Regions from separate parts of the Homo sapiens genome. Here region 1 is linked to region 2. Evidence: fine-mapped expression QTL. A gene starts in region 2. The other region holds a variant in brackets. All regions are shown on one strand. Distances are between the middles of the regions. Region 1 holds the start of MYH16 (myosin heavy chain 16). Region 2 holds the start of BUD31 (BUD31 spliceosome associated protein).

Region 1 (10,975 bases), 140 kb after region 2:
CGATGCACGTGAAAATCGAGTGTCTTACAGGGCGGCTGTGAGAGTAAAATCAGGGAAGGAATAGGAAAAGCTTTGCAAACCAGAAGGACCCCAGCAGTGAATTCACTGCAGGACATTTAGTCAGGCGCCCTACAGAAATGACATCGTTTATTCTTTCTTGCTGTGTTTCCCTGGACAGGTGAGGAAAACAAGGCTTGGAGTGGGTAAGTTGCCAAGTTTGTATGGCAGAGCCCAGCCCTGACTCCAGGGGATGCTGTTCTCACCCCATCTCGTGGCCACCATCCCTGGACTTTCCCTGCAGGTGGGTCCTGTAGCTGTGTGTGCCCAGCCTGCTGCTGTGTGCAAATAAGAATTTGATGGAGGCTGGGCACAGGGGCTTACACCTGTAATCCCAGCACTTTGGGAGGCCGAAATAGGAGGATCACTTGGGGCTGGGAGTTTGAGACAAGCCTGGGCAACATAGTAAGACCCTGTCTCTACAAAAAATTAGCCAGGCATGGTGGTGTAGTCCCAGCTACTCGGGAGGCTGAGGTGGGAGGATCACCTGTGTCCAGGAGATGGAGGCTGCTGTGAGCTGTGATCGAGCCACTTCACTCCAGCCTGGGCAACACAGCAAGACCATGTCGCTGTCTGTCTGTCTGTCTGTCTGTCTGTCTGTCTGTCTGTCTCTCTCTCTCTCTCTCTCTCACACACACACACACACACACACACACACACACACACACGAATTGGATGGAGACTTTTTGGAAGTTGGGTCGAGGGTGACTTTGTATGCTGGAGAATTTCCCGTGGTCTGGAGGGACATGGGTTTTTGGAAGAGCTCGCCCTTCCTCCCTCCCAGGGTCCAGGCTGTATGGGTTTCCCACCCTTCTCCCTGGGGACCCCACGTACAGCCTGCAGCTGGATGGTGAGGTCATTCTTCTCCTGGCTGAGCGTGGCTGTCTTCTCCTCCAGTTCCTTGACCTTGTTTACCAACTCCTGGGTTTGGGCCATGGCTTTCCTGAGCTCCTCCTCCTTGGCCTTCATCTCCTCTTCTTGCCGAGCCACATTCAGGAGTGGCTTGACCTGGGCAATGAGCAACACCAAAGAGTGTTAGGAGAATGGGGTTTGCTGGGGGGTAGACGGAGGGCTGTGGAGTCTCTGCCTCAGGCGTGACCTCACAGCACCACTGTGGTGGGAAGCAGCTCTTGCTGTAGCTCTGCGGGTGGGGTCCCTCTCCACAGATGCCACCAGGCTGAGCTCCTTGTGTAAAGCATCCCTGGCCTCAACAGAGAAGGCCCATCCTCCCCTAGGACAATTCTTAGGATGCTCTTTAATCCTGAGGGACATGGAGTTAGGTGTCCTCGGCATCTGGGTGACCCAAGGCTTACATCTGTTCTGCATGTTGTGTAGACACCAGGAGCCCCAGTGAAATGCACAGCCTTGGGGTCCCCTCCCTCCTTCCTTCCCTACTGAGTCCTCCCACCTCTGGCTCTCTGTTTCTGTCTCTGTCTGCCTCATTTTGCTGTCTCTCTCACTCGCCCACTGTTTCTCTCTCTCTCTCTGTGTCTCTCTCTCTCTCTGTGTCTCTCTCATGCCATTCCTATCTCTGCCTCTCTTCTCAGTCTCTGTTGCTCTGCTCTCTCTTTTTCTCTCTCCGTGTTTCTGTTTCTGTCTTTCTCTCTGTCTCTTTCTCTGTCTCATCTCTGTCTCTCTTATCTCTGTCTCTCTCTCTGCCTGTCTCTCTGTTGTGCTGTCTCTCTCTCTCTCATTTTCTGTGTCTTTCTCTTTGTTTTTCTCTATGTGTGTGTGTCTCTCTCCATCTCTTACTCTCCCTCTCTCTCTCTCACTCCTTTCATCTTCTGTCTAACATGAAGTCACACCTCTCGACTTGGCCTTGCAGGCCTTCCACAATGTAGCCCCTGCCCTCCTCCTGCACTGTGTCAGCTGATACTTCCCACCATGGCCAGTGCCCCTGCACCTGTGTCTATAGGGCTGGGCCTTCTTTGCCATTCAGCCGGGAGCATTTGCTCGTGCTCTGCACCCGCAGCACCCATCGGGACCTCTCTGTGCACTTGGCCCTTCTCACCTGCACTGGAGCGCCAGGCTCCGTCCGGTCCTACCACCTGTATTCTGCCCTGCATCTGCAAGCCCCTCAAAGACCTCCCTCCCATCCCTTTGGGGTTCCTAAAGCACCTAGCAGAGCTGGTGGGGCAGGTCCCCTGGGAACCACAGAAACATTATACCATAGATACAATAGATACATAGTCAATAGATACATTTCCCAGGAGGGAAAATGCCCTAGACATGGATTTGGGAGGAGGGACAGCCTGCGCCTCTTTTGAAAGATAACAGATAAACCTCGTTCATTGCCAGCCTGGCTGTTGAGAATCTGAGATGTCACAGTGGCAAAGCTGGCATGAAAAGGTTGCAGTAACCACCATACTTTGCCGCTGTGTAGCACTTTTTATTCAATGGAAACCTACTACAAGTGTTTTTTCATTGACCCAGCCTATCTGGCTTTGTTAAATAATATTAGAGCTTAGTTAGAATACTAAGAGGAGAGGATTTAGAACAACAACAACAAAAACTAAAAAGGCCGGGCGCAGTGGCTCACGCCTGTAATCCCAGCACTTTGGGAGGCCAAGGCGGGCAGATCACCTGAGGTCAGGAGTTCAAGACCAGCCTGGCCAACATGGTGAAATCCCGTCTCTACTAAAAATACAAAAAATTAGGCGTGGTGGCAGGCGCCTTAATCCCAGCTACTCGGGAGGTTGAGGCAGGAGAATCGCTTGAATCCGGGAGGCGGAGGTTGCAGTGAGCCAGATCATGCCCCTGCGCTCCAGCCTGAGCAACAGAGCAAGATTTTGTCTCAACAACAAGAAAAACTAATTAGAACAGGACCTTGTTCTGTCAGGTCTAATTAGTAACAAGCAGGGGAGTTTACAGCTGTTGCTACCATGTCTTGCTCAGAAGGAACCTTAAAGGCCATTGGCCTGGGTCTTCCCAGAGTCTAATTGTATACCAAGGGATCTGGTGAGATGCATTCAAGCATAGACACCCTTTGATTAGAGTTGTGACATAGTTACTTTAATAGGCAATTTAAAAAATGAAAACTCAAATCCACAATTTTGTGGGTAACATTTGCTTAGGATGAGATTAAAGCAGGTAAGACTACAAAGTTTCCTTTTAAAGTAAAAGTTGTGGCTGGGCACAGTGGCTCACGCCTGTAATTCCTGGAGGCTGGGGAGGATCACTTGAGATCAGGAGTTTGAGACTGGCTGGGGTAATGTAGCAAGACGCTGTCTCTACAAAAAATTTAAAAATGAGCTGGGCGGGCGCTGTGTACCTGTAATCTCAGCCATTTGGGAGGCTGAGGTGGGAGGATTGCTTGAGGCCAGGAGTTTGAGACCAGCCTGGGCAACATAGCAAGACCCTGTCTCTTCAAAAACAAAAATTAAAAATTAGCTGGGCATGGTGGCACACACCTATAGTCTGAGCTATTCGGGAGGCTGAGGTGGAAGGATCGCTTGAGCCCGGAGTTAGAGGCTGCAGTGAGCTATGATTGCATCACTGCACTCTAGCCTGGGCAACAGAGTGAGACCCTGTGTCAAAAAAAAATTTTTTTTTTCCAAAATAAAAAAGCGAGGCCAGGTGCAATGACTCACATCTATAATCCCAGCAGCACTTTGGGAGGCCAAGGCGGGTGGATCACCTGAGGTCAGGAGTTTGAGACCAGCCTGGCCAGCATGGTAAAACCCTGTCTCTACTAAAAATACAAAAATTAGCCAGGTAGGGTGGCAGATGCATGTAATCCCAGATACTCAGGAGGCTGAGGCAGGAGAATAACTTGAACCCGGGAGGCGGAGGTTGCAGTGAGCTGAGATTGTGCCCCTGCACTCCAGCCTGGGTGACAGAGTGAGACTCCGTCTCAAAAAAAAAAAAAAAAAAAAAAGTGAATTAATGTAAAGAAAGGTGAGTCATGGAACAGGCGGGGAAAGCCAGGCGGCACCGGCAACGCCTGGCCTTTGAGACATGCTCACCTAGATTCCTCTCCAATCCCAGGTCCTCCAGGGCCGGCCTGTGTGTGGATACATTTGGGGAAGCAGAACTTACTATTCCTCCCTTTCCATCTGTGGTGGGTGCTGATTGTTAGCTAGTTCTTTCCCATGGGGGAGTGTAAAGAAACTTCCTTGTGAGCTATGGAGGACTCAGGGCCACCCGAGATGACTCAGAGCCTGTCCCCACCCTCTGCGGGTCCTCCTTTCTCCTGAACATAGCTGCCTGGTGCCTGACTCCCTCTTCTGGTGCCCAGAGACATGTCCCTCTTAATGGTGGCCCCAGCACAGGCATGATTGGACCCATGTGCAGTGCCATGGCTGGTGGCCTCCTGCCTTGGTTGAGGGTGGCCTGGCTGCTTGGGACCTCTGTGGGTCCCACCACCTGGCTGACTCACATACCATACTCATTGCTGTTTCGGAAGAACAGGAAATGAGAGGTCGGACCTTATCATTTCCTGAGGTTCCCCCAGCTCTAAGCCAAGAACTCACTGGAGTTGAAGATGCCTCAACATGCCCAGGGGCAAGGAGTCAATAATCAAGCTCACTTTTTTTGGTGGGGGTGGTATGGCGCTCTCCATCTTAAGTGGATTTTATTTTGAGGGATGAGATGGAAGGCAGAAAGACACTTGCTCTCCTTTCCTTTCCTCTCTCCCTTCCTTTCCTCTCTCCCTTTCATCTCTCCCTTCCTTTCCTCTCTCCCTTCCTTTCCTCTCTGTCTTCCTTTCCTCTCTCCCTTCCTTTCCTCTCTGTCTTCCTTTCCTCTCTCCCTTCCTTTCCTCTCTCCCTTCCTTTCCTCTCTTTCTTACTTTCCTCTCTCTCTTCCTTTCTTTTCTTTTGAAATGGGGTCTCACTGTGTTGCCCAGGCTGGTCTCAAACTCCTGGCCTCAAGCAATCCTCCTGCCTCAGCCTCCCAAAGGGCTGGGATTACAGGTGTGAGCCACTGTGCCCGCCCCATGATTTTTCTTAGGGAGGAATTAGTCCCTGTCTGGACAGAGGCTAGATTTTTGTCTCTAAGGTGCCCTCATTTTCAAACTGTTCTTGCAGCCTCTCACTCCCGAGGGGCATCTCTGTCCAGGATCAAGCCCTCCCCCAGCCCATAGGCAGCAGCAGTCCCCCCTGGCCTGGCCCCTCGGCCCTCACCTTGTTGTACAGCTTCCACCAGCCCCAGAAACGGAGCTGCAGGAACTTGTGCACGTTCTGCTGAATGACTTTCAGGCCCATTCTGCGAAAAGAATCCAGGGTTGAGTGGGTTACAATGAAGGTGTTAGGACCTGGCTTCCCTGGGGAAGGGGTGGGGCCTGGGAATAGAAGCCAGCAGATCTACCTTGTTCAGACACCAAAGTGCCTTCTCGAGACCCAGCATTGCCCATGTGGTCTGCGGCAGGGAGACTCACGTTGGGGTCAGAGCTTAGCAGCACGATAAGGGAGCTGAGGTGAAACCTGATGGAACCAGGTCCCTCCCAGATGGCACAAGGCTGAGACATACCAGTCATTGACTCCTGCATTTTCCCTCCTCCACCAGAAATCACCCATTAGTCTCCAAATCCCATGGATCTGCAAAGTTGCTGGAATCTGCCCGTTTCTTGTTCCCTGCAGCTTCACTCAACTGCCATTTATTGAGGACCTCCTGTGCACCAAGGCCCTGGGCTGAATCAGGCCAAGATCCCTCACATCAGCCCCTAACTGGTATCCCTGCCTTCAGTCCAGGGCTGCAGGTGGCCTGCTGATGGGAACAGGAATTCATTACTAATTCTATGACCACAAAGAAATAGAGTGAATCACAGGTCATCTGGGATGGACCTACCTTTTTTTTTTTTGAGACAGGGTCTCACTCTGTTGCCCAGGCTAGAGTGCAATGGTGCAATTATGGCTCACTGGAACTTTGTACTCCCTGGCTCAAGCAATCCTCCTGCCTCAGCCTCCAAAGTAGCTGGGACTACAGGCATGCACCACCACCTGCGAATTTTTTGTTTCTGTTTTTTTTT[G/TG]TAGAGATGGGGTCTCCCTATCTCCTGTTGCCCAGGCTGGTCTCAAACTCCTGAGCTCAAGTGATCTCCCACCTTGGCTTCTCAAAGTGCTGGGATTACAGGTATGGGCTACCACACCTGGCCAGACCCAGCCCTTTAAAAATTACCAGGTTAGGGAGATGGCTGAAAAACATGGTTCCAAGGGCAGGGATGTGGAGTGAGAATTGCTGAGTTCTAATCCTGGCTCTGCATGAACCTGCCCCAGTTCCTTAACCTCTCAGACCTCAGTTTCCACATCTGTAAAGTGGGGGTGCTGGCCCTACCATGCCCCTCTCATAGCATCATTATGTGAATCAAGTAAGAGGAAGGCTGTGACATGACTTGAAACTATAAAGAGAGGGTTTATATTAGTTGTTTCCTGTTAGGGGTTAAGCTGTGTCCTCCGAAAGGATACGTTGAAGTCCTAACACCCAATACCTAGGAAGGGAACCTTGTTTGGGAATAGGGTCTCAGCAAATGTAACTAGTTAAGATGAGGTGGTCATACTGGAGTAAGGTGGACCCTAATTCAATGACTGGTGTCCATATAAAAAGAGGGAAGATGGGCTGGGCGCAGTGGCTCACGCCTGTAATCCTAACACTTTGAGAAGTTGAGGCAGGTGGATTGCTTGAGCCCAGGAGTTTGAAATGAGCCTAGGCAACATAGGGAGACCTTGTCTCTACCAAAAAAAAAATTAGCCAGGTGTGGTACAGTGCACCTGTAGTCCTAGCTACTCAGGAGGCTGAGGTGGGAGTATCACTCAAGCCCAAGAGGTTGAGGCTGCAGTGAGCTATGATCGCACCACTGTACTCCAGCCTGGGCTACAGAGCAAGACCCCATCCCCCACTCAAAAATAAAATTTAAGGCGATGGATATCCCAGTTATCCTGATTTTATTATATGAATGTATCAAGTTATCACATAAAACCTAAAATATGCATAGCTATTAGGTATCAGTAAAAAAATTTTTAAAAATTCCTGTTGTTTGAAGCCACCCAGTGTGTGAACTTGGTTGCGGCAGCTCTGAGAGACAGGGTTCTTTTTATTTTTTTGAGACGGAGTTTTGCTTCTGTCGCCCAGGCTGGAGTGCAATGGCACGATCTCAGCTCACTGCAACCTCCGCCTCCCGGATTCAAGCGATTCTCCTGCCTCAACCTCCCCAGTAGCTGGGATTATAGGTGCCCACCACCACGCCCAGCTAATTTTTGTATTTTTTGTAGAGATGGGGTTTCACCATGTTGGCCAGGCTGGTCTTGAACTCCCGACCTCAGGCAATCCGCCCGCCTCAGCCTCCCAAAGTGCTGGGATTACAGGCATGAGCCACCGCACCTGGCCAGCCACACAGGGTTCTTTGTGCCAGCAAGACATTGGCATCCACCCCTGGCCCACCACGCAGCATGGCCAGTGGAGCTGGCCCTGAGTGCGTGTGGCTCCTCTGGGCCTTCCTGTCGGTGTTTGTGAGTGCTACCTTCGTTCCAGCATCTTCTTGAACTCCACCCTCATGAGGAAGCCCCGAAGCCGACACTGCAGCATCGTCATGATCTTGGCCAGACGCTCGTCCCTCATGTCCTCAAGCCTGGCCAGGATGCCCGCACGGAAGAACACCTGGGGAAAGACCGCACGCCTTTGAAAAAGCCCGGCTGTCACCGATGGCAGCCACTTGGGGGAGTTTTAAATCAAAGAAGGGTTTTTGTTTGTTTGTTTTGCTGGAGTGCAGTGGCGCGATTACGGATCACTGCAGCCTCAACCTCCCGAGCTTAAGCAATCCTCCCATCTCAGTCTCCCAAGTAGCTGAGACTACAGGCACATGCCACCATGCCTGGCTAAATTTATTATTATTATTGTAGAGATAGGGTCTCACTATGTTATCCAGGCTGAGCCTCCCAAAGTGCTTGGGATTACAGGCATGTGCCACCATGTCCAGCTAATTAAAAAAATTTTTTTCGGCTGGGCGCAGTGGCTCATGCCTGTAATCCCAGCACTTTGGGAGGCCGAGGTGGGTGGATCATGAGGTCAGGAGATCGAGACCATCCTGGCTAACATGGTGAAACCCCATATCTACTAAAAATACAAAAAGCCGGGCGTGGTGGCGGGCGCCTGTAGTCCTAGCTACTCAGGAGGCTGAGGCAGGAGAATGGCGTGAACCCGGGAGGCGGAGCTTGTAGTGAGCCGAGATCACGCCACTGCACTCCAGCCTGGGCAACAGAGCAAGACAGTCTCAAAAAAAAAAAAAAAAAATTTTTTTTTCTGAGATGAGGTCTGGTTATGTTGCCCATAACCAAGGCTGGCCTTGAACTACTGGACTCAAGTGATCTTCCTATCTCAGCCTCCCAAAATGCAGGAATTATAGGCATGAGCCACCATGCCCTGCCTGTTGATGTTTTAAAAATCCCCCCAGGCCAGGCACGATGGCTCACACCTGTAATCCCAGTGCCTTGGGAGGCTGAGACGGGCAGATCAGGAGTTCAAGACCAGCCTGGCCAACGTGGTGAAACCCCGTCTTTATTAAAAATACAAAAAATTAGCCAGGCATGCTGGCAGGTGCCTGTAATCCCAGTTACTCGGGAGGCTGAGGCAGGAGAATCGCTTAAACCCGGGAGGCGGAGGTTGCAGTGAGCCAAGACAGTGCCACTGCACTCCAGCCTGGGTAACAGAGTGAGACTCCGTCTCAAAAAAAAAAAAAAAAAAAAAAAAAAGTGTCCCCAGATGAGTCTAATGTATAGCCAAGGTTGAGAACTTTGTTCTAGAGAAATTCCTGCACAGGACCATGAGCAAGGATGTTCACAGCAGCACTGCAGTACAGTGTGGCAGTGACAATGTCACGTACCAATGAGGATGAAGCTTAGAAACATGGCAAAGCGATAAAAGCACGTCATGGAGGAATGTCACGGAAGGGTGTGTCAAGTATGATACTTCCATGAAGCTCAAAACCAAGCACGACCTGCAGGCATATGTGCTAAAGCTATTTTTGAAAGGTAAGGAAATAAGCCAGGTGGTGTGGCTTATGCCTGTAATCCCAACACTTTGGGAGGCCGAGGTGGGAGGATCACTTGAGCCCAGGAGTTGGAGAACAGCCTTGGCAACATATTGAGACCCCATCTCTATAAAAAATACAAAAATTAGCCAGATGTGGAGGTGTGCACCTGTAGTCCCAGCTACTCGAGAGGCTGAGGTGGGAGAACCGCTTGAGCCCAACAGTTTGAAGCCACAGTGAGCTGTGATCGTGTCACTGCACTCCAGCCTGGGCGACAGAGCAAGACCATGTCTCTTAAGAAAAAAAAAAAAAAAGAGAATGGTTCATGTCAAAATTCAAGACAGGGTTACTCCTGGGGGTAGGGAGGGGATGGGAGAGGAAAGACATGAAAGGTTGACATTCTGGGCTTTTCAGTGGGTTCACAGGGTGCTGGCTTTATTATTATGTTTCATAATGTAACACCTTTTTACAGGCTTCAAATAGGACATAATAGAAACTTTTAGAAGGATAGAAGGTGCCAGGAGACCTGCATTCTGGCCTCAGCCTTCCTTGGATGTGCTGTGTGTCTGACTGTGGTTAAGTCACTGTCCCTTTGGGGGACCTAGGCTTCCCCTCCTGTCCGGACAGAATGCTGCCTGCAGGGCCCCTGGGACCTCTGAGCTGCGGGAACCCAAAATGCCACACGGGGCCAGGGAGTACAGCACCTAACTGAGCCACTGTGGGCAAAAGATGAGGAAGAATGCTCCCTGCCCCTCAAAAGGACCCCCGAGGAGCTAGACATCGCAAGGTAGAGAAATCAGGCTTGATGTCATAAAACATTTCCTGATATTTCAAAATTAATTGGCGTTGAGGTTTAGTCTTTGAAACAAGCATGTGGCTGGGGGTGGGGCCCACCTGAGCCAACTCCAAACATAGGAACACCATTTGCAGTCAGAACCATCCTGTTCTTTGTTCTCCTCCTGCTGCCAGTCTGCCTAGTCCTCAGGGAGCAAAACTGTCCCCAGCAGCCCTGGGCCTTCCCCTGGAACTGACGTGCCTAATGCAACCCTTGTACAACAGCAAGATGCAGTCTGTTTGGCCAGGTGGTAAACGGACAAGATTCTGAGCTGTGCCAGATTCTGAGATACCAGCTCCGGCTTTCCCGGCCACACGACCGCCACTGGTGGGCCTTATGCCGACTAGCTCTGTCCCGCTTCGTTCTGTGAAGTTGGGCATGCCACCTCCACCCCCTCTCCAGGCTTTCTTAAGTTTCCCATCTGTCAAGGGTGGGTAGGGAAAGGAGGGGCCCGTTGGTTTCTAAGATTCTTTCCAGCTCAATTATTCCATGATCCTGTCTCCAAACCTCAAGTGTCCCCCGCAAGTCAATCTAGCTATTTACAGCACATCTTAATTGTGAAGGATGCCAAAACAAACAGTTCCAGCAGGTTCTAGGGCAGTGTTACAATTCCACACACACAGAGTATTATAAAGCAAGCTCCAGGGAGTGAGGGACTCATTCTGTTCTCTTCACTGTGTGTCCCTAGAGCCTGGAACCATGCCTGGCACACAGTAGGCGCACCATAAGTGTTTGCTGAGTGACCAGATGCATTAGAGGCACAGGCATGCTGGAAGCTTCCATGCCAAGCCTGCGTCATGCGTGAGAACTTGGAGAGAGAAATGATCTGCTCCAGGCGGCACAGAGGCAGGCTTTGAGCTGACTCTCCTGACTGCAAAGCCTGTGAACCTCCTGTGTCACGGGGCGATCATGTTGGGGTGCAGTTTGTTGTGGGGGGCAGGGCGGCTATAGAAGGACACCTGGCACCACTGGCCTGGCTAGCCTTTACAACCCCACCAGGATGCTGCAGGGCCAGGAAATGGGATAGACCCAGGGCAACTCGGGCCCCATGAGTCAGGAGCAGGAGGTTGCTCTGTCTGAGTCAGTCCCATCTCAGCCGCTGGCTCAGAGCTGGGCTTACAGTG
Region 2 (10,975 bases):
CGTTGGCACATTACCCATGTGACAAGAAAAAAAGTCTTTTTAATTACAGAATTAGAAAACATAGATTTTTAAAGACATTTAATGGTAACTTCTGTTAAAAGGTTGGTCCCGGCTGGGCACAGTGGCTCACGCCTGTAATCCCAGCACTTTTGGAGGCCGAGGTGGGTGGATCACTTGAGGTCAGGAGTTCGAGAACACCCTGGCCAACAGGGCAAAACACTGTCTCTACTGAAAATACAAAAATTATCTGGGCATGGTGGCACATGCCTGTAATCCCAGTTACTCGGGAGGCTGAGGCACGAGAAGTGCTTGAACCTGGGAAGCAGAGGTTGCAGTTAGCTGACATTGTGCCACTGCACTCCAGCCTGGATGACAGATGACCCTGTCTCAAAAAAAAACAAAACAAAACAAACAAAAAAAAGCCAAAAAACCAACCTTGGTCCCTATGCTTTCAGATCTATTTCTACAGCGTAATAATTAATCAAGATAATTCTAGGCCCACAGATGGGCATCCTAATCATCTTGAAGGCACTTCTAATTTCATCTCCCAGCCAAAGTCCTTTAGGGCTGAGGAAAAGCTAAATAAACTAGACCAGTCTACAGGTTCTGAGGGAAGTAGCCACAGCAGAAGCTGCTCCTTCAACACACGCAGGATCAGGTGGCACTCATACTTGCCGCAAGGCAGTTCTCTCTCTCTCAGCAGTCACAAGTTCATCTTTGTCTATGACCTCCTCAGTTTTTAGGGAAGAACAGAAGGGCGAAGAGTGGTCAAGAAGACTATCCCTCCCTGTCTCCAGCTTTTAAGCCATTCTATTACCTAGGAATTACAATTCAGCTCAACAAACAGAATGCTGTGATCCAAGCAGAAAAGCAGGTAGTAAAGATTCAGCAGGTACACATGTTAAGACGTGACTTGCTCCTCCTTGGCCTCTGCCATGATGGTGAGGCCTCTCCAACCACATGGAACGGTAAGTCCATTAGATCTCGTTCTTTCGTAAATTGCCCAGTCTCAGGTATGTCTATCAGTAGCGTGAAAATGGACTAACACACCCCCATCTCTACAAAAAATTAGCCAAGCGTTGGTCGGGCGCGGTGGCTCATGCTTGTAATCCTAGCACTTTGGGAGCCTGAGGCGGGTGGATCACAAGGTCAGGCGATCGAGACCATCCTGGCTAACATGGTGAAACCCCGTCTCTACTAAAAATACAAAAAAAAAAAAAAAATTAGCTGGGCATGGTGGCGGGCGCCTGTAGTCCCAGCTACTCCAGAGGCTGAGGCAGGAGAATGGTGTGGACCTGGGAGGCGGAGCTTGCAGTGAGCGGAGATCGCGCCACTGCACTCCAGCCTGGGTGACAGAGCGAGACTCCGTCTCAAAAAAAAAAAAAAGAAAAAAAAGAAAAGAAAACTTAGCCAAGCGTGGCAGTGGATGCCTGTAGTCCCAGCTGCCTGGGAGACTGAGGTGGGAGGAACACCTGAGCCTGGGAGGTGGAGGCTTCAGTGAGCTGTGATTGAACCACTGCACTCCAGCCTGGGCAACAAAGTGAGACCTTGTCTCAAAACAAAAACAAAAAGAAAACAGAACAAAGAATACTTCTGTCTGGAGGTAAAGAATATCTAAACACAAAGTAGGGTTCCTCCTTCCCTCAAAAGTCACCCTTTAGAAGATGAAGTTAATTTACTTTCAAGGACTTGCAAAATCTCTTCTATTCCAGCATGCTCCCATTTCCTTTATTTTGATAAAGAGCTGTTTCGGGAAGACATCTCTCAGCCCAAAATGACCGTGATTACTGCAATAGGCCCATCCAAATCTAAACTGCAAAACAAGTACTGAGTATTTAATAGAAGTTATCTGGTACGAACAGTTTTTTTAAAAAGGGGCAAAGTAATTTAACATTGATTTAATTTAGTAATTACTGCTGGAGGTACGACCTCATAATAACCATGATTAGGTTAGTTACAAGCAAGCATTTCAAAAGCTACTTTAAAAAGTAACTTCAGCTGGGTGTAGTGGCTCATACCTGTAATCCCATCACTTTGGGAGGCCGAGGTGGGTGGATCACTTGAGGCCAGGAGTTCGAGACCAGCCTGGCCAACATGGAGAAACCCATCTCTACTAAAAATACAAAAATTAGCCGGGCATGGTGGCGCATGCCTGTAATCCAAATTACTCGAGAGGCTGAGAGGCAGGAAAATCACTTGAACACGGGAGGCAGAGGTTGCAGTGAGCCGAGATCACGCCACTGCACTGCAGCCTGGAAGACAGAGCAAGACTCCAACTCAAAAAATAAAAATAAAAAAGTCAATTGGTAAGTGGCCACACTGTGATCATATAAGGCCAACAGATGCTTGTGGCTTCAGATAAAATTTCCAAAGACAGCATAGGACACGGGTTCACAAAGCAGGATCACACGCCATTTACAAGGAAGTGACAGAAAACAGATGCGGCAAAGACTAATCGATGATACTGAAAAGGAATAGCACTTCCAAGTAAATATATTTTGTATGATTTTAAATATATATCTAACCAAAATAGTAAATAACTATAGGTAGACTATTTGATCTATATTTCATAACCTTTTATATTCGAGTTGGCAAAAACAAAAACAAAAAAAAACACCTTTTCTGAGGACCTTTTCATTAATGTTATCTTATTTTCGGGCACTTACAGTATTTCCCCAAGTTCATAAGCAAACACAACATGTCAGTGTTAGTAGACCACTCTCTTTTTATATTTGCATTTATGCCTGTCCCCTGGGGGCATCTAAGCCTGTGACCCTTGGACCCAGCCCACCCAGACAGGAACTCCCCTACTCACCTTCTCTCATCTTTTGATCTAATTCATCCAGTGTTGGCTCAATCAACTCCCAGCCATCTGGGGGTGCTTTCCGGCTTCTTTTGACTTTAGGCATTTTCCTTCCACAGGATAATCTGCAAAGATCTGGGGGAAAAAAATGAATTGGTTTCTGAGTCTCAAATCCCCAAAGGCCTTTGCCAGCCATTATTTCGGTACAGGCTGACTTCCTTGAGTCAGCATAGGGTCACAGCTATGGGACAGGGCTCAGCACCCAGACTGTGTTCAAATCCTGGCTCTGCTACTTACCCGCTGTGATCTTCAGAAAGGTACTTAACCTTCCTAAGCCTCTGTTTCCTCATCTGTAAAATGGGGATAATGGAAGCTACCTTATGTGGTCATTGCAAAGACTTCATTAGAATTGTATCTATCATGCCTGGTGTATAATGTGTGCCTAAGAGACATTTGCTGTTGTCATTAGCTAACTTCAACTAAAAGCTTAACCCTATACTGGATGTTGGGAACACAGAACAAAAGTTAAGCCTTTGCCCCTTAGAAGGTGACATTTTAGCAAAGAGACAGACAAGAGAAAAAGCAATTACAATAGAGTATAAGGAGGGCTGTGACTCGGGGAGCCATGGGGGTGAGTATTTAAAAAGGCAAAGATGGAAGGTCAGGCACGGTGGCTCATGCCTGTAATTCTGGTCTTGGCCAGCACCTTGGGAGGCTGAGATGGGAGGATCACTTGAGCCCAGGAATTTGAGACCAGTCTGAGCAATGAGGTGAAACCCTATCTCTACCAAAAAAAAAAAAAAATCAAAAAAATTAACTGAGCATGGTGGTGGGTGCCTGTGGTCTGAGCTACACGGAAGGCTGAGGCAAGAGGATCACTTGAGCCCAGGAGGTTGAAAGTCTTCAGTTAGCCATGTTCACACTACTGCACTCCAGCCTAAGTGACGGAGTGAGACCATGTCTCAATAACAAACAAAACAAAACAAAACATAAAATAAAAAGGGAAAGATGACTGTAAAATCAAAGTACCTTAGGATGTGCTTTCCAAGAGTATAGACAGCAGAAAGATCTCTCGTCTCTGCAGTTGCAGGCTTGGATTCTTGTTCAGCTCTAAAAAATTATTCTGTGACTTTCAGGTCACCTTCCCTCTCTGGTCCTGTTTCTTCTGTAAAATGAGGGCAGTGGATTGGCTGATTGCCAAGGTCTCTTTCACACCAAACAACATATTACATAAAGTCAGGTAGTTCCCATACAAGAGGCCGATCCCAATCTAAATAGCAAAGCGTTTTTCAAACCACACAGCATTTCCTTGCTGCCAGAGAGAACCCAGGTTAAGTATTTACCTTTCAGCATAACAGATTCATCTCTCTCAAATTCATTCAGTCACTCCCTTCTGTACTGACACTTTACAAAGACCCACCCCCCCCCCGCCCACAGAGCCTCCTCTCATGAACTCTCTAAAACAACCATATAGAGGAGGAATCAAACTCTATAAGGTAGAATCAGGGTCACACAGCTGAGAATTTGCAAAACCTGACTCTGGAGGGCTCCTGACTCCCAAATCAGTGGTCTTCGCACTAGTCTCCCCTACGCTGAAGCTAAAAATAGGTGAATTCTGGTCTCGGCCCCAAGGCGCATAGTCTGTGACAAGAGAATGATCGCTTTTCTACGACCCAGGGAAATTCGAGGGCCCTGATCCAGCCTGGAAGTCAGAAGAGGCCTCTCGGAGGTGAAAATGGTAGGCGGTAACCAGATCGAGGAGAAAGAGGACGTAGGAGGTAATCAGATCGAGAAGAAAGATGTGCCGGGAGGTGTAAGAGAGATTGGGGCGCTAGGGGAAGGAGGCGAGGAGGAGCGAAGGAAGATAGTGCAGGATTGTAGGGAAAACTCATAAAAAGGACAGCATCTGAACCCAGCTTAGAAAAACAATCAGAACACAGAAGACGTTCCTACCAGAGGAAACGGCGCGAGAATCCTAGAGGAAAACCCCCAAATCTACCGTCCCCTCAGAAGAACGAACGTGGCGCCGCCTCCTCTCGGGAGCTCTCTCCGGCCTCAAGGTCCAAAGCCCGAACACATCCCAGTGGCTGGCTGAGAGTCCAGCCACTCATATCTCCCTCCAGGACGGTGCAGACCACCGGTCTCCCGCCTCAGCCGTTGCCAAGGTAATCGAGAACAGAGGGAAAACACATACCGGAAGCTCCTGGAGCTTGGGTAGCTGCTTCTCGACAGAAGGCTTCCGCTCTTCAGGCGATCTCTAAGGCATGAGGTCCTTGCGGAGCCCCGCCCTACCCGCGCGGAGATTGCGTCATCTTAGGTGTCCTCAGCAATGCCTGTATAGAATTCCAGAGCCGCTGTTGCCATTTGCCCTCACTTCCGGTGGGTGGCAGGCAGGGCCACGCGTCTTCCCGAACGGAGAGACTAGGGGCGTTGTTGCCTGGCAGCAGACGGGCAAGCCTGGACTTAGGCGGCGCGCAGGACGGTCCGACTTCGTGCGGAGGCCTCCCTGAGGTCCGGGTCCTTGCGGCCACTGCGGCCACTGAAGCGGCGGCGGCGGCTGGCCCAGGAGGAAGAAGTCGAGCCCAAGCTATTTCCGGTTCCGGTGTCAGTTCGAGGCGCCGCCGCCGCCGCCGCAGCCGCCGGAGCCGCAATGCCTAAAGGAGGTGAGGGGCGGGCGCCGGTGGCCCGCAGGCCTGGAGGGGCGGCCCAGGTCCGGCTTCCGCTGTCCCCTCAGCCCGTGCGCGTCTCTGAGAGCAGCGCAGAGGGAGGCTGTCCGCACCGGCTGAGAGCCAGGCCTGGGCCTCGACGCCCAATTGTCCCGATGGGGAAACTGAGGACTGTGGTGTCCCAGAGTCACTCCGTCAGTGGTCTGAGGAGTTTCGGAAGCTCTGGGTCCTCGCCGGCCTAGAAAGCCGGATCTAGGATGCGCTTCTCCGGGTCTAGGGGTTCTGGAATTTATCCCACTCTTTGGCTGGCTAGGAACTGAGTCACCGCGTCCCGCGCTTGTGCCGGGCCCGCCTGCCTCTCGCGTAAAACGTGGGCTTTTTCTGGCTTCGGTTCAGCCAGGCCTGCCTAGGAGGACTTAAGGAGATGCCCATGAGCCTTCCAGACCTGGTTTCGACTCCCCCGTTCGGTAGCGGCTCGGTGTGTTCCTTTGAGCCAGTCGCTCCACCTCCTGTGTCTCCGTTTTCTCATTTGCCAATGGGAATAACGATTGTACCTACCTCTTAGTACTGTTGGGAGGCTTCAACTAGGTAATCCACGTGGAGTGCGCAGTACAGTGCCAGGCAGTCGTTAAAAGTGCCCAGTGAAGCAGTAACTATTCTTATTTTTAAGGCTTTGCCAGCTCTTGATCTTGTAAGTAGGTTCATGACTGCCCAGTCCATTGTAGCCCGTCCTCTATCTTCTAGCCCGTTCTCTATCCTGTTTCCCCCTTTAGAATCGATAGTCCCCAGTTTGAATCCCAGCTATGTCACGTCTAATTCTGTGGCCCTGAACAAGTTAACCTCTTCCTCATCTGAAACACTGGGCTAATCCTTAGCTTGTTGAATTGGGGCCGGGGTGGTAAAATTATAGCGCTCATAAAGTGCCTGGCCACCTCCTGGCACAGAACAAATATATTTGTGTTGGTAGCTCATGTGTTATATTGGTTAATGCACTCAACCCACAGAAACATCTGCCTGTAGCGTTTTCAAACCTAAATCGCTTCCTGACTCCAGAGATAATTGGGCATTACAGAGCTAAATGTGTTTAAACCTAGCTCTCTACTGATTTATTCTGTGGCTGGAAAAGTCTCTCTGCTATTGTTCCCCAGTCCCTTCATCTGTAAAAGGAGGTTGCTGAATGAGCCATCCTCCCTCCGAAGTTTTACTTAATGGATACTTTGGGTAAAGGTTGGAGGTTACAACGATAAAACCTTAAATATGAATTCATAGCTAAATGGTCTTTGGGCTTGTGAAAAGCTTTTTGGGGTAGACAAGGTTTACATTTTCTTGGGTTAATCTGAAAACCACAAAAAACCGTGAAGGTGTTAAAAGTATCAAACTCCCTAAGAGCAAAGGACCAACGCTTGTTTCCATTATGTTAAGTGCAAATCGTTTTTTAAAGTCTTGAAGAGTCTACTATAAAATTACTGTGGACCAAGCTAAGGTCAGGGTCCCATAGCCAAGTGCATGAGAGGAGAGCCTATAGTAATCAATTTTGAGTTGTTACTGTTGCCTGGTGTATTAAGAGAGCAAGAAAGGGTGTTGGTTTTTTTCTTGGCACACTTGCTCTCTCACAATAGGACTTTAATAAGCATAGACTTAGACACCCCTGGGAACCTAGGTAGTCATTAAAAATGGGTGGTGTGATCTTTAGCAGCCCAATTATGGCTTTGCAGCTGCTGTAAGGAATCAGAGGAGGCCAGTATCTCTGCTACCGCCTCTGGAGTGCAGAGCAACTCTGGCTGATTACAGAGTCTCTGCTCACAGAGACAGACTATGGAAATCAGGTGGGCCTCAGCTTCCTGTGTGGAAGTTGAGGCCACAGCCACCCTTGCATACTTGGGGACCAGCAGAGGGGGATGCCACCTTGCTTTAAAACTGGCTGATGGCTTAAGCAAGGGTCAGCCTGGTGTTCTGGCTGAAGAGGGTCAGACTATAAAACTGACACTTTAACTGCTAGTCACATTTTTAACTTTTAGACTGTGTAGTCAGGTTTGTTTTCATCTGTACTTTGCCAGTCATTTCTTAGTCTAAGCACAAAGTTTTTGCCTGTAGGTTTGGGTTTCTTTTTTTTCCCTTAAGTATTCTCTTTTTGCCATACTACTAAGGTGAACACAAGGTATTTTATTGTGTTTCCAACATCTGCAGTAAATTGCTTATGTGCTCAGTGGTGCTTTTGTTGTTGTTTTTCCACCAAATACTAGATTAGAGGGAAAAGTAACGAACAGCGATTTTTTTATTTTTTTGAGACGGAGTCTCGCTCTGTGGCCCAGGCTGGAGTGCAGTGGCTCAATCTCGGCTACTGCAACCTCTGCCTCCTGGGTTCAAGCGATTCTCCTTTCTCAGCCTCCCAAGTAGCTGGGATTACAAACATGTGACACCATGCCCAGCTAATTTTTGTATTTTTAGTAGTGAGGGGGTTTCACCATGTTGACCAGGCTGGTCTTGAACTGGCCTCAAGTGATCTGCCCGCCTTGGCCTCCCAAAGTGCTGGGATTACAGGCATCAGCCACTGTGCCTGGATATTAGCGAACATTTTTGTAGTGCTTATTCAGTAGCAGGCACTGTTCCAGCAGCTTTCTGTATATTGATTAATTCATCTATCTTTGTGACAACCCTGTAAGGTAGGGACACAGATGAGGAAACTGAGACTGAGAGGTTAAATACCTGCCCAAAGTCATCAAGCCAGTAAGCGTAGAACCTGGGAGTTGGACTCTAAACTTCGTGGTGTTTCGCAGTCTGCTTTGGTCTAAGTCTCCTGGTCTATGAAATGGGACCAGCTATCACCCCTGTACCATAGGTTTGTTCCGAGGATCAACTGTGCCCCTGGCTGGCTGGGCGCGGTGGCTCACACCTGTAATCCCAGCACTTTGGGAGGCTGAGGTGGGCAGATCACGAGGTCAAGAGATCAAGACCATTCTAGCCAACCAACATGGTTAAACCCCATCTCTACTAAAAATAAATAAATAAGCTGGGCATAGTGGTGCACGCCTGTAGTCCCAGCTACTCGGGAGGCTGAGGCAGGAGAATCACTTCAACCAGGGTGGTGGAGGTTGCGGTGAGCCGAGATTGCGCCACTGCACTCCAGCTTGGGTGACAGAGCGAGACTCCGTCTCAAAAAAAAAAAAAAAAAAGTGCCCCTGGCTGTGACAGAACATCGTGTAAAAAGCCCTTATAGTGACGGCAGGGATGTAAGTGGTACATGTTTCTGTGGTTGCATCTGAGTCCACTATGCTTGGATTGTAAGGGACCAGGGGATGTAGCAAGTCATTGCAGTGCACCGTCCGCCATGTTCTCCCCTCCGGTCTTCTGTGTAGGAGCCAGCATTTAGTACACAGTTTGGTGATGCATCAGATGGTCACGAGTTGCTTCCTGCGTGCCTTTGAACACATGAGGGTGGCGGAGGTGTCGGTTTGGGTGGTGCTGGGTGAGGGGTAGGTGAGGCCTCCGATGAGAGTACTCCAAGCAGGACACAGCCCTCTGGGGGTCAGAGCAGTCAAGGCAGCTGCTTCCGCTCACCTAAACTGCGGGTCTCTGCAGGAAGAAAGGGAGGCCACAAAGGCCGGGCGAGGCAGTATACAAGCCCTGAGGAGATCGACGCGCAGCTGCAGGCTGAGAAGCAGAAGGCCAGGGTGAGTACGTGCCTGTCCAGGCCACGCCAGTGGCCCAGGGTGGCGCTTTGCCAATTTGGTTCATAGAGAGGCCAGGCAAGGACTACCCATTCGCAGGGACAAGCCAGCACGTGGGGGTCGGGCGGGCAGTGAGCCCCAGGTGTGAGTCTCAGAACAACCAATGACAGTCAGGGCGTGGGCATCCTCTGCCTGGATGGGTTAGAAAGAACTGTGGCTGCTCTGCAGCAGCTGCTTTAGTGGGGCCCTGTTCTTGGTCTTGTGCACCTACTTTCAGGAGGATCTCCCTCCTGCAGGACCTGTCCATTCACAGCTCGAGCTCCCAGCACCCCTGCTTGTCTGCTGCAGCCACACAGGATGATTTGCCACACTGCACATGACATATGCCCTGCCTTCCCACACCCCCAGCATCAGCATGCTCTCCATCCCTGGAGACGTTGTTTAGCCTCTCCTCCTCTGTGACTCATGCCTCACCTCCAGCCAGAGCTGATTTAGTAGTTCCCTCTCCTCTGCTCCCATAGTACATTGTCCAGGCCACCGTTAGGAAATAGAATACATTCCCATCGTCAGCATCTGCATCTTACCATATCATTAGATTGATGCCTGGATCAAGGGCCTAAGGGAGCAGTCAGGGCCAGATGGGTACACAGCTGTGACGTACCCCAGGAGTCTCAAGAAGGGAAAGGCCACATCCAGCTGTGGGGTCTGGGAGGGGTCCTTGGGGGAGCCAGCAGCTGAGCAGGACATGGAGAATGTGTGGGCAGGTGCCAAGAGGTGAAGGGACATGAGGTTCCTATAAGGGACATTTTTGGTGGGAAGGCAAGAAAGGTGGAGGGAAGCAGCCTTCCGAGGTGTTGTTCTGGGGAGCTGGTGCAGGAGGTCACCTGTGTGGGTGGGTCGGGGGGATGACTTGCCATGGAGTGGGAGTGGAGTGCGGAGAGGACTCGCCTGGGAATGCCAGCATGATTTGGCAGCTGCATGTGGCAGGTGGGAGCTGAGTAGGATGGTGGTTTTCAGCCTGGTGGCTGAGTCCTTCTGACCCCAGGAAACAAGCTTCTCACCCTGGCTGCTGAGGTGGCTGCGTTAGGAAGGGGAGCAGGGCCTTCTGTGGCTGTGTGAGGGGCTTCCTGGACTATGGGAATGGCCTCTAAGCTGTGGTGCTAAGTGCATAGGCTGCCTGTGTCTGGCCCAGGTCCCATTCCCTGGGGGCCAGGGTCACAGTAGGACCCTTGTCATCCTTGGTTCCAGCCTTCCAGAGGCTTGATTTCTCAAGATCCACAGTCTGGGGGGTGATAGGGTCACAGTCTTGGGGATTTGTTTTGCATTTTTGATTCTGCAGGTTGTCCATTTCTGAAACAGGAAGAAGAGGAGCAAAAAGAAGGTGGAGATGGGGCTGCAGGTGACCCCAAAAAGGAGAAGAAATCTCTAGACTCAGATGAGAGTGAGGATGAAGAAGATGACTACCAGGTACTGAGTTCTTTTGAGGGCCTAGAGCCTGGACTCATTCATTCAACAAACAAACGTTGAGTGACCGTTTAGTACTAGTCCCAAAGGTAGATGCAGACAACGTCCTTGCTCTTGAGGGTTTACACTACGGGAGATACAACAAAGAAGTAAACAGACAGTGTCATTTCAAGTAATGAGAAGTGTTACTAACAAAACAGACTGTGATTGAGGGGACTTGGAAAAGTGTTGTGGTGGTGAAGCAACTTATAAACTGAGATCTGAAAAAACAAGATGCAGCCAGCTATGTGAAAATTGGCGTGCAGAGCAATTGAGAAACTGGATTAGCAAGTGCAAAGGTCCTGTGGTGGGAATAAGCTTGGCATGTTCAAGGA

The links. PIP is the estimated chance that this variant, and not a neighbour inherited with it, causes the effect.
Region 1: its variant is fine-mapped to the expression of BUD31 in whole blood (TOPMed, PIP 0.99).

The regions. Positions count from the first base shown.
Region 1 is chr7:99,267,629-99,278,603 of GRCh38, reverse strand. MYH16 (myosin heavy chain 16) reads right to left here and starts at 5,765. Exons shown (of 24, transcript NM_001431356.1): 1 at 5,527-5,765; 2 at 5,181-5,262; 3 at 892-1,065. The coding sequence starts at 5,261. LOC105375421 (a long non-coding RNA gene) reads left to right here. Exons shown (of 4, transcript XR_927798.3): 4 at 179-388. The variant G/TG (reference allele first, on the strand shown) is at 6,026.
Region 2 is chr7:99,403,027-99,414,001 of GRCh38, reverse strand. BUD31 (BUD31 spliceosome associated protein) reads right to left here and starts at 5,033. Exons shown (of 6, transcript NM_003910.4): 1 at 4,757-5,033; 2 at 3,833-3,968; 3 at 2,816-2,938. The coding sequence starts at 2,909. PDAP1 (PDGFA associated protein 1) reads left to right here and starts at 5,405. Exons shown (of 6, transcript NM_014891.7): 1 at 5,405-5,466; 2 at 9,049-9,140; 3 at 10,497-10,604. The coding sequence starts at 5,454. It overlaps MIR12119 (microRNA 12119), which reads right to left and starts at 4,830; the gene lies at 4,738-4,830. LOC124901707 (a long non-coding RNA gene) reads right to left here and starts at 2,057. Exons shown (of 2, transcript XR_007060451.1): 1 at 2,019-2,057; 2 at 1,707-1,813. It also overlaps LOC124901841. RefSeq lists an enhancer at 4,977-5,366 and a silencer at 5,577-5,636.